Homo sapiens: one gene and its partners. The protein of the gene in region 3 purifies or fractionates together with the protein of the main gene of each other region. This does not show direct contact. Each region holds a gene or a part of one and is shown on either strand. Other genes may lie near its edges.

The links.
Region 1: the proteins of FBLN5 (region 3) and TXNDC12 purify together in Homo sapiens (co-immunoprecipitation; one large-scale study listed by IntAct). This does not show direct contact.
Region 2: the proteins of FBLN5 (region 3) and EMILIN3 purify together in Homo sapiens (affinity purification with mass spectrometry; one large-scale study listed by BioGRID and IntAct). This does not show direct contact.
Region 4: the proteins of FBLN5 (region 3) and RBPMS2 purify together in Homo sapiens (affinity purification with mass spectrometry; one large-scale study listed by BioGRID and IntAct). This does not show direct contact.

What each region holds. Positions count from the first base shown.
Region 1 is NC_000001.11:52,045,192-52,048,691, forward strand, and holds part of TXNDC12 (thioredoxin domain-containing protein 12 precursor), read right to left. Parts: intron 1-3,500. UniProt on the Homo sapiens protein: Protein-disulfide reductase of the endoplasmic reticulum that promotes disulfide bond formation in client proteins through its thiol-disulfide oxidase activity.
Region 2 is NC_000020.11:41,364,019-41,368,287, forward strand, and holds the start of EMILIN3 (EMILIN-3 precursor), read right to left. Parts: upstream 2,801-4,269; 5' UTR 2,617-2,800; coding exon 2,450-2,616; intron 1,140-2,449; coding exon 1,017-1,139; intron 1-1,016.
Region 3 is NC_000014.9:91,871,803-91,874,694, forward strand, and holds part of FBLN5 (fibulin-5 isoform 1 precursor), read right to left. Parts: intron 1,874-2,892; coding exon of another isoform or gene 1,695-1,873; intron 1-1,694. UniProt on the Homo sapiens protein: Essential for elastic fiber formation, is involved in the assembly of continuous elastin (ELN) polymer and promotes the interaction of microfibrils and ELN. Stabilizes and organizes elastic fibers in the skin, lung and vasculature.
Region 4 is NC_000015.10:64,769,090-64,772,589, forward strand, and holds part of RBPMS2 (RNA-binding protein with multiple splicing 2), read right to left. Parts: intron 1-3,500.

The DNA.
Region 1 (3,500 bases), on a different chromosome or scaffold from region 3:
TTGGAAAAAGCAAAATTATGGAGATAGTAACAGATCAGTGGTTAACAGGGATTCTGGGGGAGAGAGATGAATAAGTGGAGCTCAGGATATTTTTGTAACAGTGAAACTATTCTATATGAAACTGTAATGGTGGATACATACTGTTAATGGCCTCAATTGTGTCCCCCACCCCACTCCAAAGTTCATATCTTAAAGTCTTTAAAGAGGTAGCTGAGGTAAAATGAGGTCATTGCGGTGGGCCCTTATCCTTATGAGAAGAGGAGATTAGGACACAGACAAACTTAAAGGGAAGATCATGTGAAGACATAGAAGACAGCCATCCACAAGAAGAAACCAACCCTACCAAGACCTTCATATTGGACTTCTAGCCTCCAGAACTGTAAGAAAATAAACTTCTATTGTTTAAGCCGGTTAGTCTGTGTATTTGTTATGGCAGTCCTAGCAAACGAATACATATGTTATTATACATTTGTCAAAACACATAGAATGTACAACACCAAGAATGAACCCGAATGTAAACTAGGGACTTTGGTTAATAATAATGTATCAATATTGGTTCGTCAATTGTAACAAACTATCTTTCAAAAGTAAGAGCAAAATAGACATTTTTAGATAAGCTGAGTGATTTTTCCATCCTTCCCTCACAGCCCTCAGAAAAAACAATCCTGCTGACACTGTGATTTTGGACTCCTAGCCTCCAGAACTGTGAGACAATAAATTTCTGTTAAGACACAGTTTGGGCTGTGGATGGTGGCTCATGCCTGTAATCCCAGCACTCTGGGAGGCCGAGGTGAGAGGATCATTTGAGCCCAGGAGTTTGAGACTAGCCTGGGCAACATAGTGAGACCCCATCTCTATAAAAAATAGAAAAATTAGCCAGGTGTGGTGGTGCATGCCTATAGTCCTAGCTACTTGGGAGGCAGGGGCAGGAGGATCGATTGAGCCTGTAGTGAGCTGTGATTGCCCCACTGCACTCCAGCCTGGGTGACAGAGCAAGATTCTGTCTCGAAAAAAAAAAAGACACAGTTTGTGGTACTTTCTTACTGTAGCCTTAGCAAACTAATACAGGGGAGCAAGGCAAAAGCAAGGAGACTAATAAAGGGGCTACTACAATAATCCAGGCAAGAGATGATAGTGGACTGGACCAGCTGGGGTGGTAGAGGGGTAAGATACCAATAGGTTCTGGATATATTTCAAAGGCAAAGTTAGCAGGATTTTGCTATGGATATGGGATATGAGAGCAAAAAGAGAAGTCAAGGATCACTCTAAGGTTTTTGGCCTGGACAAGTAGAAGGATGGAGCTGCCATTTACAGTGAGGATGAAAGCATGATTAGAGCATGACCAAGACAGTCCAAGGAGAAAAATTAGATCGAATACATACAACTCTTTCAAAAAATTTTTGACTGGGTGTCGTGGCTCACGCCTGTAATCCCAGCACTTTTGGAGGCCAAGGCAGGCAGATCACTTGAGGTCAGGAGTTCGAGACCAGCCTGGTCTAACCTAACATGGTGAAACCCCATCTCTACTAAAAATACAAAAATTAGGCCAGGCGCGGTGGCTCACGCCTGTAATCCCAGCACTTTGGGAGGCCAAGGCAGGCGGATCACGAGGTCAAGAGATCAAGACCATCCTGGCCAACATGGTGAAACCCCATCTCTACTAAAAAAAAAAAAAATATATATATATATATATATATATATATTAGCCGGGTATGGTGGCACACACCTGTAATTCCAGCTACTCAGGAAGCTGAAGCATGAGAATTGCTTGAACTTGGGAGGCGAAGGTTGCAGTAAGCCAAGATCATGCCACTGCACTCCAGCCTGGGTAACAGAGTGAGACTCTGTCTCTAAAAGAAAAGAATTTTGCTGTACCAGGGACAACTGAAAGCTGATAGAAATGATACAATAAAGATAGGAAAAAGGGGTAATACAACATTAGAAGGGAGAGTCACTGGTAAAATATTGGTGAGTCGGTGAGAGGAGACGGGATTTAGCACTCAAGTAGAGGGATTAGCCTTTGCTAGGAATAATGATGGTTTATCAGGTAACAACAGGAAAGGGAGCATGTATGAACACTAGTGGGTAAATGCAGTAGTGAAAATTTTTGAAAGGCCTCTTCCGATTCCTTCTGTCTTCTGGTAAAGAGGGACTATAATTACTAACTGAGAGCAAGGACTATGGAAGAAGTATTGGAGATTTGAAAAGACAGGAAGAAGTATGAAATAGTCCCCTAGGAGAGAATCAGAGAAAATAAAAAGGATAGCTAAAGGACATATTTCAGGTAGGAAATGATCCCAGAGGAAGGCCTAGATACAAAGAATAGTGAGCAAATAAACCAGCAAACATGTAGATAAATATGTAAATATTGTCTGTATAGCAATTTATAATGCCCGATTTGTAGAGTTAAAAAAGAAAGAGAGAGAGAACTAAGCCAGGCACAATGTGCACCTGTAGTCCCAGCTACTCTGGAGGTTGAGTCAGGAGGATTGCTTGAGCCCCGGAGTTTGAGGCCAGTCTGGGCAACAGGATGAGACTCTATCTCTAAAAAATAAATAACTAAGTTTCAAAAAAAAATTAAAATTAGAACTAAATATGAGACAACTCCTTATAAGTGAAGAGTGGGTGATTGAAATTAAATGTTCTAAAGTCCCTCTTACCACTGGGGGTATAATAGTGTTAGATTTTGTTAAGTATGCAAGTAAAATTTCAAGAGTTACTACTAAAAGAAAAGAACTAGAATGCCAACTTCCAAACTAATAAAGGAGATAAAATAAGAACAAGCAAATATTCAACCCCCAAAGAAAGGGCAAAAAGAAAAAAAAGCACAGAAAAAAACAGTAGAAACTGGATAACAGAAACAAGAGCTGTTCTGTCAATAATCACAACAAATATAAGTGGACTAAACTTGCCAATTAAAGTGAAAAGACAAAAATTGTCAGACTTGGTTTAAGAAAAAAGTACCTCTACGATGCTTATAAAAGCATACCTAGCCAGTTGTGGTGGCTCACACCTATAATCCCAGCATTTTGGGAGGCCAAGGCAGGAGGATCACTTGAGGCTAGAAGTTCGAGGCCAGTCTGGGCAACATAGAGAAACCTCACCTCTACAAAAAAATTTAAAAATTAGCTGGATGCAGTGGCATGTGCCTATAGTCCCAGCTACTCAGGAGGCTGATGTCAGAGGATTGCTTGAGGCCAGGAGTTCGAGGATACAGTGAGCTATGATGGCACCACTGCACTCTAGCTCGGGCAACAGAGGGTGACCCTGTTTCTTTTCTTTAAAAAAAAAAAAAAAAAAGCATGCCTAAAACAGAAGGACTTACAGAAGTCCAATGCCAAACAAGATAGAGTCAAGGAAGCTAGATTAATATAAGGTTAAATAAAATTTCTCAGCCAGGCACAGTGGCTCATGCCTGTAATCCCATTACTTTGGGAGGCTGAGGCAGGCAGATCACTTGAGTTCAGGAGTTCAAGACCAGCCTGGCCAACCCCATCTCT
Region 2 (4,269 bases), on a different chromosome or scaffold from region 3:
GACAGGGGTGGGTAAGGGCAGGCCTTCCTGAAGCTCACAGTCATGTTAGGGAAGGATGCAGGTAGAAGTCCCACCCATCCTGGTAGCTTGGAGAGAAGCAGGAATTTTGCCCCATCCCTCCCAAGACCACTTGGACCCCCTCTAGCTCAGGCTGCCATGAGAAATTCCACTCAGGCTGCAGTAGCACCTGGGAGAATCAGACACAGCCCCAGCCCTCCCTGTGGGCAGGGAGGGGCACTGCCCTGGAGCTGGCGCTGGCAGCCCCCTCACTGCCCTGGGGGCCACTCTTGGCTCCTACCTGCTCCCCTTAGTTCTTTCCACTCCTCTCTAGCCTGCTCCGGGACCTCGGCTCTGGTCAGAGAGGCAGATGGACGGGTACCTCTGATTGTGAGCAGGGAAGGGAAGGTCCAGGGTACAGGCAGGCTCGCGAGGGTCCATGCCCTCACTGTTCAGCCACGTACCTGTTCACCCACTGACACACCGGAGACAACAGGTTTGTTTCCACACACACACGTGAACCTCTCCAGGTACAGAGCTGTGCATCCCATGTGCGTGCAGCCCTGCTGCTCCGGCTTCCTCTCCCTGCCCCATGGCCTGCCTCCTTGTGGTCACCACAGTCCTCCCTGGGCCTGCCAGGCCCCCCTGTGGCATCACCCGTTGCCTAAGGGGCCCTCTGCTCCCTCCTCTCCCCTCACCTTCTGCCTCTGTCACTTCCTCCTAGCCTTGTGCTGCCTCTGCCCCCAGAACCTTCCCCTTGTCCCTCTGTGGTTCCTGGGCTCCAACCCAAGCCTGCCCCTGTCTGTGCGGGTGATGCTCTGCTGCAAGCCCAAATCCCTGGGGTCCTCCTTGGCACCCTCTTTTCTGGGGCCGCCTTCTACTCTGGCCTGTATGGGGGCTCAGGTGGGCTCTCTGGAGTCCAAGAAGCCCCTTGTGGAGTTGGCAGCTGCTCTCAGCTGAAGGCAGGACTGGCGCTTGTGCCAGGGGATTCCAAGTGTGTAGGTGAGGAGTGCACTTACGTGACTGTCCCGGGGCACTTGGGCCCCCATCTACACTGCCGGTATTCAGCCTTTACGTAGCTCTCCGCTCCCTCCTGTAGGATGCAGGTCACATTCCTGTGCACCACATAGGCACAGAGGGCCCTACAGGAGAAAATGGCACCCCTGGAATATCTGGCTGAGCGAGGCCCACAGAGGCGCCTACCCTCCCACCTCCATCTGTGGGCCTCAGCAGGACTCCAAACTCCCATGTCTCTTCTGTCTGTTCTCTGTGTCCCTGGGAGCCAACGCCCTTGGTCTGGGGTCCAGCCCCGCTGCTGGTCTCTGATTCCAGCCTCCGTGATGGGTGGCCCCTGGGCTAAGCACTATTTGGAACCAGGAGCCTGATGTGGCTGCCCCTCCCTGCGTGGGGAAGAGGCCAGCCCGGATTCTCCCTCAAGTGCCCTGCCACACCCCCCCATCCTTCGCTGATTCCAAACTCCTTATCTTGGCATTTAAGGCTTCCGAGTCCCCACTCAGTGACTCCTTTGAGAGCACCATGTCTTGTCCTTCCTCCCTGCCTGGCTCCCGGGGAAATCCACCTCTCCTCGTAGTTTTGCAGCCCCTGCCTTTGGTCCTGTTCCCTTACTCTCAGAGCAGTTCTTGTACCACCTCCTCCAGGAGGCTCGCTGTGATGTACCCAGGCCCACTGAGTGTCGGTACTCTTCCTCCTACAACAGCTCTCAAATTCAGCTAGAATTCAAGTTCAGCCAGCACCCCAGGCAGAGCCTCCAGCCCACTTAACTGAGGCCAGTTCGCAAGCCACTGCCCACGAAACACCAGAAGCTGAGGCGGGGAAAGCAGGCTCCTTGATGAGCCACAAGGGCTGAGGAGGTGGCTGCCTGGCATAAGCCGACCGCTGTGGACGGCTGTGCCACAGCACAGGCCCGGAGCCAGGAGCCCGCTCTGGCTCTGCAGCCCGGCCACGCTGGGGCTCCCATGGGGTTGCTGGGGCCAGGCTGACTGCGAGAGGGCAGCGGCCGCCCGGATGCGCAGCTCTATCTCCTACCTGGCCGGGCCAGGGGAGAGAAGGGAGGCCCGGGGCGGGGGAGCCCCGCGTGCTCAGCGCGCGGACCGCCTTTCCTCCTCTCCCTCCACCTGGTCCGCTCGCCCGGAGTCTGCACACAGCGCAGCTGGAAAATGTTACTTCGCTGGAAAGGTTTCCGCTGGCACTGCCAGGATCCCAAGCCGCCGCGCCAGGCCCCCTCGGTTCCTTTTTCCTCGCCAGCCCCGCAACCTCCCGGAGCGTAGGGCGCTCGCCTGGGCAGGGGCTCGGCCCCGGGCGCCGCCCCCTCTGTGCAGCGGCCTCGGGGTGCCCGGGGCCTCGACGCCCCCCGCGGGTGCGGGCAGGTGGGAGCGGCGACGCGCGCGGGCCCATCCCTCCCTCTTCCCGCCCGCCGCCCGCCCGCGCTTACTTGTGCGGCCCCGGGCGCAGCCGCGGGCGCCATCCCGTCGTGTAGAGACTGTAGCGGGAGGCACCGGGCGGCGCAGGCCGCGCCAGGAGCGGGGTGCCCCTGGCCTGCGCCCCCGAGAGCAGCGCCGCGACGGCGCACAGCCAGACGAGCAGGCGGCGGCGGCCCATAGCGGCCCCCGCGCCTCTGCCCGGCCCCGCGCGGTGCCCCCCGCCGGGTGTCCGCCTGCAGCGCCGCGCCGCCCCCGCCGCTGGTCGGCCCGGGTCCCGCCCCGAGGGTCCCGGGGTCCCCTTCGGCCCCCGAGCTCGCTGGCCCGGCCGCCTGGCGCTTCGCGGCGGCTGCGTCCCGCGGAGTGGCCGGCGCTGCTAGCGGCTGGGGCCGCGGAGGGGAGGCGGGAGGCGGGCTCTTTGCGGATTAGCATAAACTTGGGGCCGCGCCGCTCGCCGCCGCCAGCCCCTCGCCCCAGCTCCGAGCGGACGGCCGAGGAGCCGCCTGCGAACAGGAGGTTCCAAAGGGAGCAGCCCCAGGTGGCAGGGGCGCAGGCCGCCGCGCCCTGGGAGGCCCCCCGAGCACACCAGCCACTCTGTCGCCTGCGGGCACGGGGCGAGACGCAGAGAAGCGGACCCCTGAGGCCAGCCTGGGCGTGGACTTTCCAGGAGTCGTCCACCCTCAGGATACGCTTGTCTTCAGAGTCCGTGTGAACCCGGGAACTGCTCTCCAGGGCTCTGGAGCCGAGATGGCCGTGACTGGGGGCACAGCAGCACCACCTCCCCCGCCACCTCTTTGGAATAGACCCCAGATCATCCCCGTTTGCTCGCTCTGCCTCCTGGCCCCATCATTGCCCGGGAACCTTAGTTTGATAACTCCGCTGACCTCTCCCCAGGCATCCCACCTCCCCCTTACCCCGCAACCTCTGCCACGTAGCCTGGTGGCCCGGTTGCACCTCTGGTTCTCTGGAGGCGCCTGTGTTGCCTCTCTGTCTTAGGTATGGGTTGCACCGAGCCCGAAAGGCCTATCACCGCCCCAGCCCAGCCAAAAGTGCTGTGCTTTTCGTGCAACTGAAGCTCTAAGCCGGCTGGTCAGAGAAAATCCTCAGGTCTTTCTCACAAGGCACTGCCGCGGTGAAGCCAGGCGTCGTCCACATTTTGCTTGTGAAGTTGACTCTTGGAACCCAAGAGTTGGGTTTTATCGTCGTCCTCATTCAGTATCACCTTGCTAACTCTCTAACCTGCACAGAGTCCTTCTGATTCTGTCATCAGAGCGGTACTTTCCTGGCCTTGTCTCATCCACACCGGTGGCTACAGCCGTCTGTGTCTTTGCCCCAGGAGCTGATAGGTGTACAGAACTCTGGGGCTTGCTTGGAGAGACCTCCCTCCAAATTGACCTTGAGATATGAATTAATGCCTTTTGGATAGGGTGATGGTTATCAAGGATACTGGAAGGGGCAGCTCCGAAACCCACATCTATTTCCTGCCCTTAGCTTTAGTGGCTTTTGGGTTCTGTGGGGCGGACATCTGACCCCAGCTAGGCCCATCCTGCTTTCCCCCAGGCTTTGGAATCAGAACACAGAAGCTGAAGGAATCCAGCTTCCAGGTGTAGGTTGTGTGAGTTTCTCAGGGCTGTGGTAACAGCCACAGACTCAGTGGCTTAACACACAGAAATGTATTCTTGCACATTTCTGGAGGCTAACTCCAAAATCCATGGGCCAGCAGGGCAATGCCCCCTCCAGTGGCTCTGGGGAGAAGCCTTCCTTGCCTCTTCCAGCCACTGGTGGTTCCTGGCAATCTCTGGCGTTCTTTGGTCAAGGATTCTTTGTAGCAGCA
Region 3 (2,892 bases):
ATAGAGATCGCACCACTATACTCCACCCTGGACAACGGCGAGACTCCAGCTAAAAAAAAAAAAAAAAATTCTCATAAAACCCTGAAAGGCCTTGCCACTCAAAGTGTGGTCCCTGGACCAGCAGCATGGGCATCACCAGGGAGCTTCTTATAAATGCAGAATCTCAGGGCTAGGATCTACTGAGCCAGAATCTGTGGCTTAACACAATCCCCAGGGCTTTGTGTGCACATTAAGTATTGAGAAATATTGATCTAAAAGCACAGGACCCAGGTGGGGGGGCCCTGGCTGTCCTTGTCTAAGTGCTGTATGAAAGGTATGACTCATTACTTCCCCGTTTTATAAGTAAGCAAACTGAGGTCCCATGAGGTTAAATAATTGCTTAGGGTTACCCAGCTAGTCTTGGGCAGAACCAAGGGCTTCCATTCAGGTATTTCTGACCCCAAGCCCCAGGCTTTTTTCACTGCACAGCAGGTATCAGAAGAGGCTGATGTGTGTTTCACTTCTTCCTAGCACCCACCTAATGAGAGATGCTCGCGGTCAGTGCAAGGGACAGATATTGGCACTGTTAGAGGAAACAGTGTGAAGAAGAAAAGGGATGGGCTGGACAATCACTTCCCATACACTGCAGAGCCCAGCCCTGTGCCCAGAAGCTGCAAGCAACAGTCTCTGCAAAATAAAGGAACCTAGCTGGTTTAAAGCTACACTAGATGTTTTATCTGTCTCCATAAAAGGAGGGCGCCCCATAAAGTTCTGAACATCCCCAAGAGCCACCACAAGTAAGACAAGGGTGGGGCTGGCAGACAGGTGCAGGCCAGGCGCTGGGACCTCCCCTATCCATGAGGCTATCGGCAGCCTGACAGCCACACAATTTCCTCTTGGCACTGGTTCCTCCTGTTCCCGTCAGCATCCACGTTATTGGCACCTCCTCACGCAGATTTCTTGGACTTCCTTGTCAGCCCTTACGAAACCTGAGCCCTGGGCCAGGGCTTCAGAGGGTAAAGCCACACAAGGAAATGCCTGCAGCCTTTACATATACAAATATCTCACCAGCTTTCACTGCGTGAACAAAGACCAAGAGTTGAGAACCCTGAGCTAGGGACAGCCCTCCAGAGGGAGATCTGCAGAGCCCAAGGTCTGGAAGGGAGAAGGGGGCAAGTGCAAACTTCCAAGTTGTTCCTTTGGGCTCTCCTGGTAAATGTCTCCTGAGTACGAAAGAATCCTCAACTATCCCATTTGAAATCCTAGACTCTCCCATTTGGAAGTAACTGCAGAAGCTGGTGAGTCCGGCCTCCACCTGGGTCCACCCTACCCACAAGCACCTGGAAGAGCTCAAGTACCTGCCACAAGAGCTGAGGACAGCCACCTCCACATTCGGCTTTTAGGGCAGAGCCAGGGCATTAATGAAATAAACCCCTGAGAGCCCGTGGGCATTAGTAGGCTTGGTGGTGCGAAAAGATGAGGAGGAGGAGGATGGTGGCGACAGTGATGACGGTGGTGGTTATGATGCCAGGCATCTGGCTACAACCTTTCCTACACCTCTTAATTAATCTTCACAACCCTATGCTCTAAGTAGGTTAGGGATACTACATAAGGCCACCAAACTACTGCATGGTACTAGACTTTATGGCTCCAAAAATCATGCTTCTAACCACTACACTCTCTGATAAGGTCTCTGTACCTCTCCATTTACTCACCATCCCATGGGTCTTGACTTGACTTGAGAATCGCCACTTTGTGTTGTGTTTGCTAGGTTGTTTTCCCCCTCTCCGCTAAGGTGTGTGTGGGTTCCTCCAGGGCAGAGACCACATCCTGTTTGTTTCTCAACGCTCAGTGCCTGACTTGAAGCCTCATATGCAGTGGTGCTGAATGCACGCTGGTAACGGAAGAATGCACACGAATGACTGAACGCCAGTGGACTTGACCACGCTGGGAGTCGGCTGCCAACAGCCCACCAGCTGTGTGTCTTCTTGGCCCTGATCCCAAACACACTCAGGTTTATTCTAATCAACTTGTGGGATGGCATGGTCTGACCTGTGGCAAGCAGCCACGCTGTAGCAGGCCAGCTTCCATGGGCCCTGTCACTTGATCCACGTGTGTCATGGAGTAAGTGCACTTTGGCACAGTCTGAACCCCATGACCTTGCTCCTTCTTCTGGCCCTAATTATGACCCCCAAGCCACCTGGCCAAAGCCAATCATCAGTCCTCTTTCTAGGGCTCAGTGAGAGACAGGCAGCCAATAAGGCTTATGAATGGGCTTGTGTGTGTGTGTACACGTACGCATGTGGGCATAAGTGTGTGCATGTGTGCATGCAAGTGTGTGTGTGTGGTTTGCCTGCGGGGTGAGATGAAGCTCCTCCCATGTGGTTATAATCAAATCAATGAATCTCAGGGTGTGAGAGCCTGGATGGCCATCCAGCCCCACCTCCCACACGATGCTCCAGTCCCCTGGGTAGCATTCCCAAGCTCTCCATGGCCCAGCAGCTCCCAGCCTCCTTGCAGCAGTAGCAGCAACAGTAGCAGTGGCCACAACAGTATCTATACAATCATAACTGCTATTTCTGGAATACTTTCTATTGTAACTGGATGTTAGACTTTTCTTGTGATCTCCATTTCATCTGAGACCCCAAAGCTGGAAGAGTAGGTAAAGCATACCTCCCCATTCTGAAGAAAAGTATAACAGCACAGATTTTTGGTGCCAGGCTGCTTAGGTTCAAATCCTGCCCTGGTGCTTATTAGTTGTGAGACTAGTCGGGCAGGTTGCTTAGCTCTGTGCCTCAGTGCTCTCATCTGTAAAATCTGGACGATAAAACCATCCTATATCATAGGATTCTTGTGAAGATTAAAGGGTTACTGTATAGAAAGCACTTAGAATAGTGTCTGGCACATACAGGC
Region 4 (3,500 bases), on a different chromosome or scaffold from region 3:
GACTTCGTCTCAAAAAAAAAAAAAAAAAAAAAAAAGAATTTTAAAAATATGCAAGATGTGTAAGGATATAGATTTTTTAAAAAAGAATTTAGGTCAGGTGCAGTGGCTCACATCTGCAATCCCAGCACTTTGGGAGGCCGAGGCCTCCCAACATGGAGAAACCCCATCTCTACTAAAAATACAGAATTAGCTGGGCGTGGTAGCACATGCCTATAATCCCCCTACTTGGGAGGCTGAGGCAGAAGAATTGCTTGAACCCAGGAGGTGGAGGTTGCGGTGAGCCGAGATCGCGCCATTGCACTCCAGCCTGGGCAACAAGAGCGAAACTCCGTCTCAAAAAAAAAAAAAAAAAGAATTTAAAAAATAAAATCCATCCTGGCTAACACGGTGAAACCCCATCTCTACTAAAAAATACAAAAAATTAGCCGGGCGTAGCAGCGGGCGCCTGTAGTCCCAGCTACTCTGGAGGCTGAGGCAGGAGAATGGCGTGAACCCAGGAGGCAGAGCTTGCAGTGAGCTGAGATCGCGCCACTGCACTTCAGCCTGGGCGACAGAGCGAGACTCCATCTCAAAAATAAATAAATAAATAAAAATAAAATAAAACTGGCTTGGTTTGTTTATTATCTTCGTGCAATGGCAACTCTAAATCATATCTGTGATAAAAGGCCCCTCCTGGCAGGGGCTGACAGCTCCCATCACCCATCTTGGGATGCCACCAGCCCAAAGGAAACTAGTCCGGAGTCAGCCTCTGGGCTTCTGGTTGGCATCACCCAAAACTCAGCCATTAGAAACTTTAATTGCAGATACCCGGCTGGGCGCGGTGGCTCACGCCTGTAATCCCAGCACTTTGGGAGGCCGAGGCAGGAGGATCAGGAGGTCAAGAGTTCGAGACCAGCCTGACCAACACAGTGAAACCCCGTCTCTGCTAAAAATATAAAAATTAGCTGGCCGTAGTGGTGCGCGCCTGTAATCCCAGCTACTTGGGAGGCTGAGGCAGGATAATCGCTTGAACCTGGGAGGCAGAGGTTGCAGTGAGCCAAGATCATACCACTGCATTCCAGCCTGGGTGACATGGCGAGACTCCGTCTCAAAAAAAAGAAAAAAAAAAGAAAATTGCAGATACCTTTCTCCCCCTGCCTTCCAGTCTCACCAAAAACCCTAATATAAAACACAATAGCAGTATACTGTGTGGTTAAGAGCAAACTCTGGGTTCAAATCCCAACCTCCCCACTTAATAGCTACATGAAAGTTATTTAACCTCTCTGTGCCTCACTTTCCTCATTTATGAAATGGTGATAATAATGTAAGTACTTCATAATGCTCTTACAAAGATTAAGAGTTAAAATGGTGCAGAACATATAACAATGCCTGGCATAAATACAACATACAGGTTCATTATTATTAGTACAGCCTCTCCCTTAGATTACTTAGGCAGAGGGGACACATCCACAATAACTCCCAGTGAGGAGGGGAACCTGACCTCCTACTGCTATATGCCTGGCAGGGCTTCTAGGTGAGTGCCCAGAAACAGAGAAGCCTCCATTCCCTCATATTCAAAAAAAGCCTGCAGACCAAGATGTCCCAGATGCTTTCAAATGCTATTGATGTTAAAGAAAAGGGAGGTGCCCAAATAGCACACTGGATCCAGGAATTACCTCGCACTCATCTAGAGTGCCTTATCCCCCACCTCCCACACCCCCCTCCCCGTTCCATCCACACAAGTCTAAGCACCTGTTCACCCACATCTCAGGGAGGGCTGACCTCAAGCCACCCAGTGGTCCCAGGGCTCTGGCTGCTTCCTGACACCCCTCTGAGGACACATGATGGGCTCTAGGATACCAGGCCTGCAAGCAGCAGCCCTGTCCCAGCCACACTGGGATGAGGTGGAAGGGCAGGGAAGGGCAAAGCCCCTCAGGTCAAACTGTAGCCCCCTTAGCTGCCATTAACCCCTGCCTTTCTATAGCTTACCATTAAGCTGGCAAAAACTTTTTTAACTCTTAAGAAACTTATATCCTCCCTCAACCCAATAGTATAAATACCACTCTCCCCCTTCCAGGGGTGCCCCCCAGTTAAAAATTACTTTAACAATCTCCAAACTCTTCAAGTTGTATACACTAAATATACACCTTTATATATGCCAATCATACCTCAAAAAAGTGGTTTTTAAAAATTACTATAACTTAGTATCACCTCGTACCGTTTAGTTGTCCCTCGATATCTGAGGCGGATTGGTTCCAGGGTTCCCCCTTGGATATCAACATCTCCAGATGTTCAAGTCTCTTATATAAAATTTGTATATAACCTATGCACAGGCCGGGCACGGTGGCTCACGTCTGTAATCTCAGCACTTTGGGAGGCCGAGCTGGATGGACCACTTGAGGTCAGGAGTTCAAGACCAGCCTGGCCAACATGGTGAAACCCCGTCTCTACTAAAAATACAAAAATTAGCCAGGCATGGTGGCGTGCACCTGCAATCCTGGAGGCTGAGGCAGGAGAATCACTTGAACCTGGGAGGAGGTTGCAGTGAGCCGAGATTGCGCCACTGCACCCCAATCTGGGCAACAGAGACTGTCTCAAAAACAAAACAAGGCTGGGCGCCGTGGCTCAGGCCTGTAATCCCAGCACTTTGGGAGACTGAGGTGGGCAGGTCACCTGAGGACAGGAGTTCAAGACCAGCCTGGCCAACATGGTGAAATCCTGTCTCTACTAAAAAACAAAAATTAGCCAGGTATGGTGGCGGGCACCTGTAATCCCAGCTACTCAGGAGGCTGAGGCAGGAGAATTGCTTGAACCTGGGAGGCAGAGGTTGCAGTGAGCTGAGATTGTGCCACTGCACTCCAGCCTGGGTGACAAGAGTGAAACTCCCCTTCAAACAAATAAAAAAATAACCTATGCACATTTTCTGGATACTTTAACTCATCTCTAGATTATTCACAATACCTAATACAATGTGAATGCTATGTAAATAGTTGTTATATTTATTTGTATTATTTTTTATTATTGTATTTTTTATCTACAACTGGATTCATGGATAGGGAACCCATAGAAATGGAAGGCCAACAGCAACTGTATTATGAAAGCAAGGTCTCCACTTTCAAAATAGAAATCACATTTACCCCTCTTCAGAGACATGGTAATTACCCAGTTATCCCTTGAGAATCACTAAGACAGGACATTTAGGTCTGAAGTTTGGCAGCACTGATACAGCCTGCCCCGGACAGGTTCATGTACTGTATTACCTCATGTCGTCCCCAGCTCCAGTCAAGACTTACCTGCAGGACAGCACAACCTCTAGATTGGGAGGGACATTCAGCTCCTCCCCTTAATTCCTTACTGCCCTCCTTAGCTTTCAAAGGGTATCAAAGCTTCGAACACATCTTCCCAAGTGGCAGAAAAATGCCAATTTTCCCGTAATACCACAGTCATTACTGCCCTAATTCCAAACTCTCATTATGGCTGCACTGCCTGATATTGCTGCAATATAGCAAACTCCAGGTAGT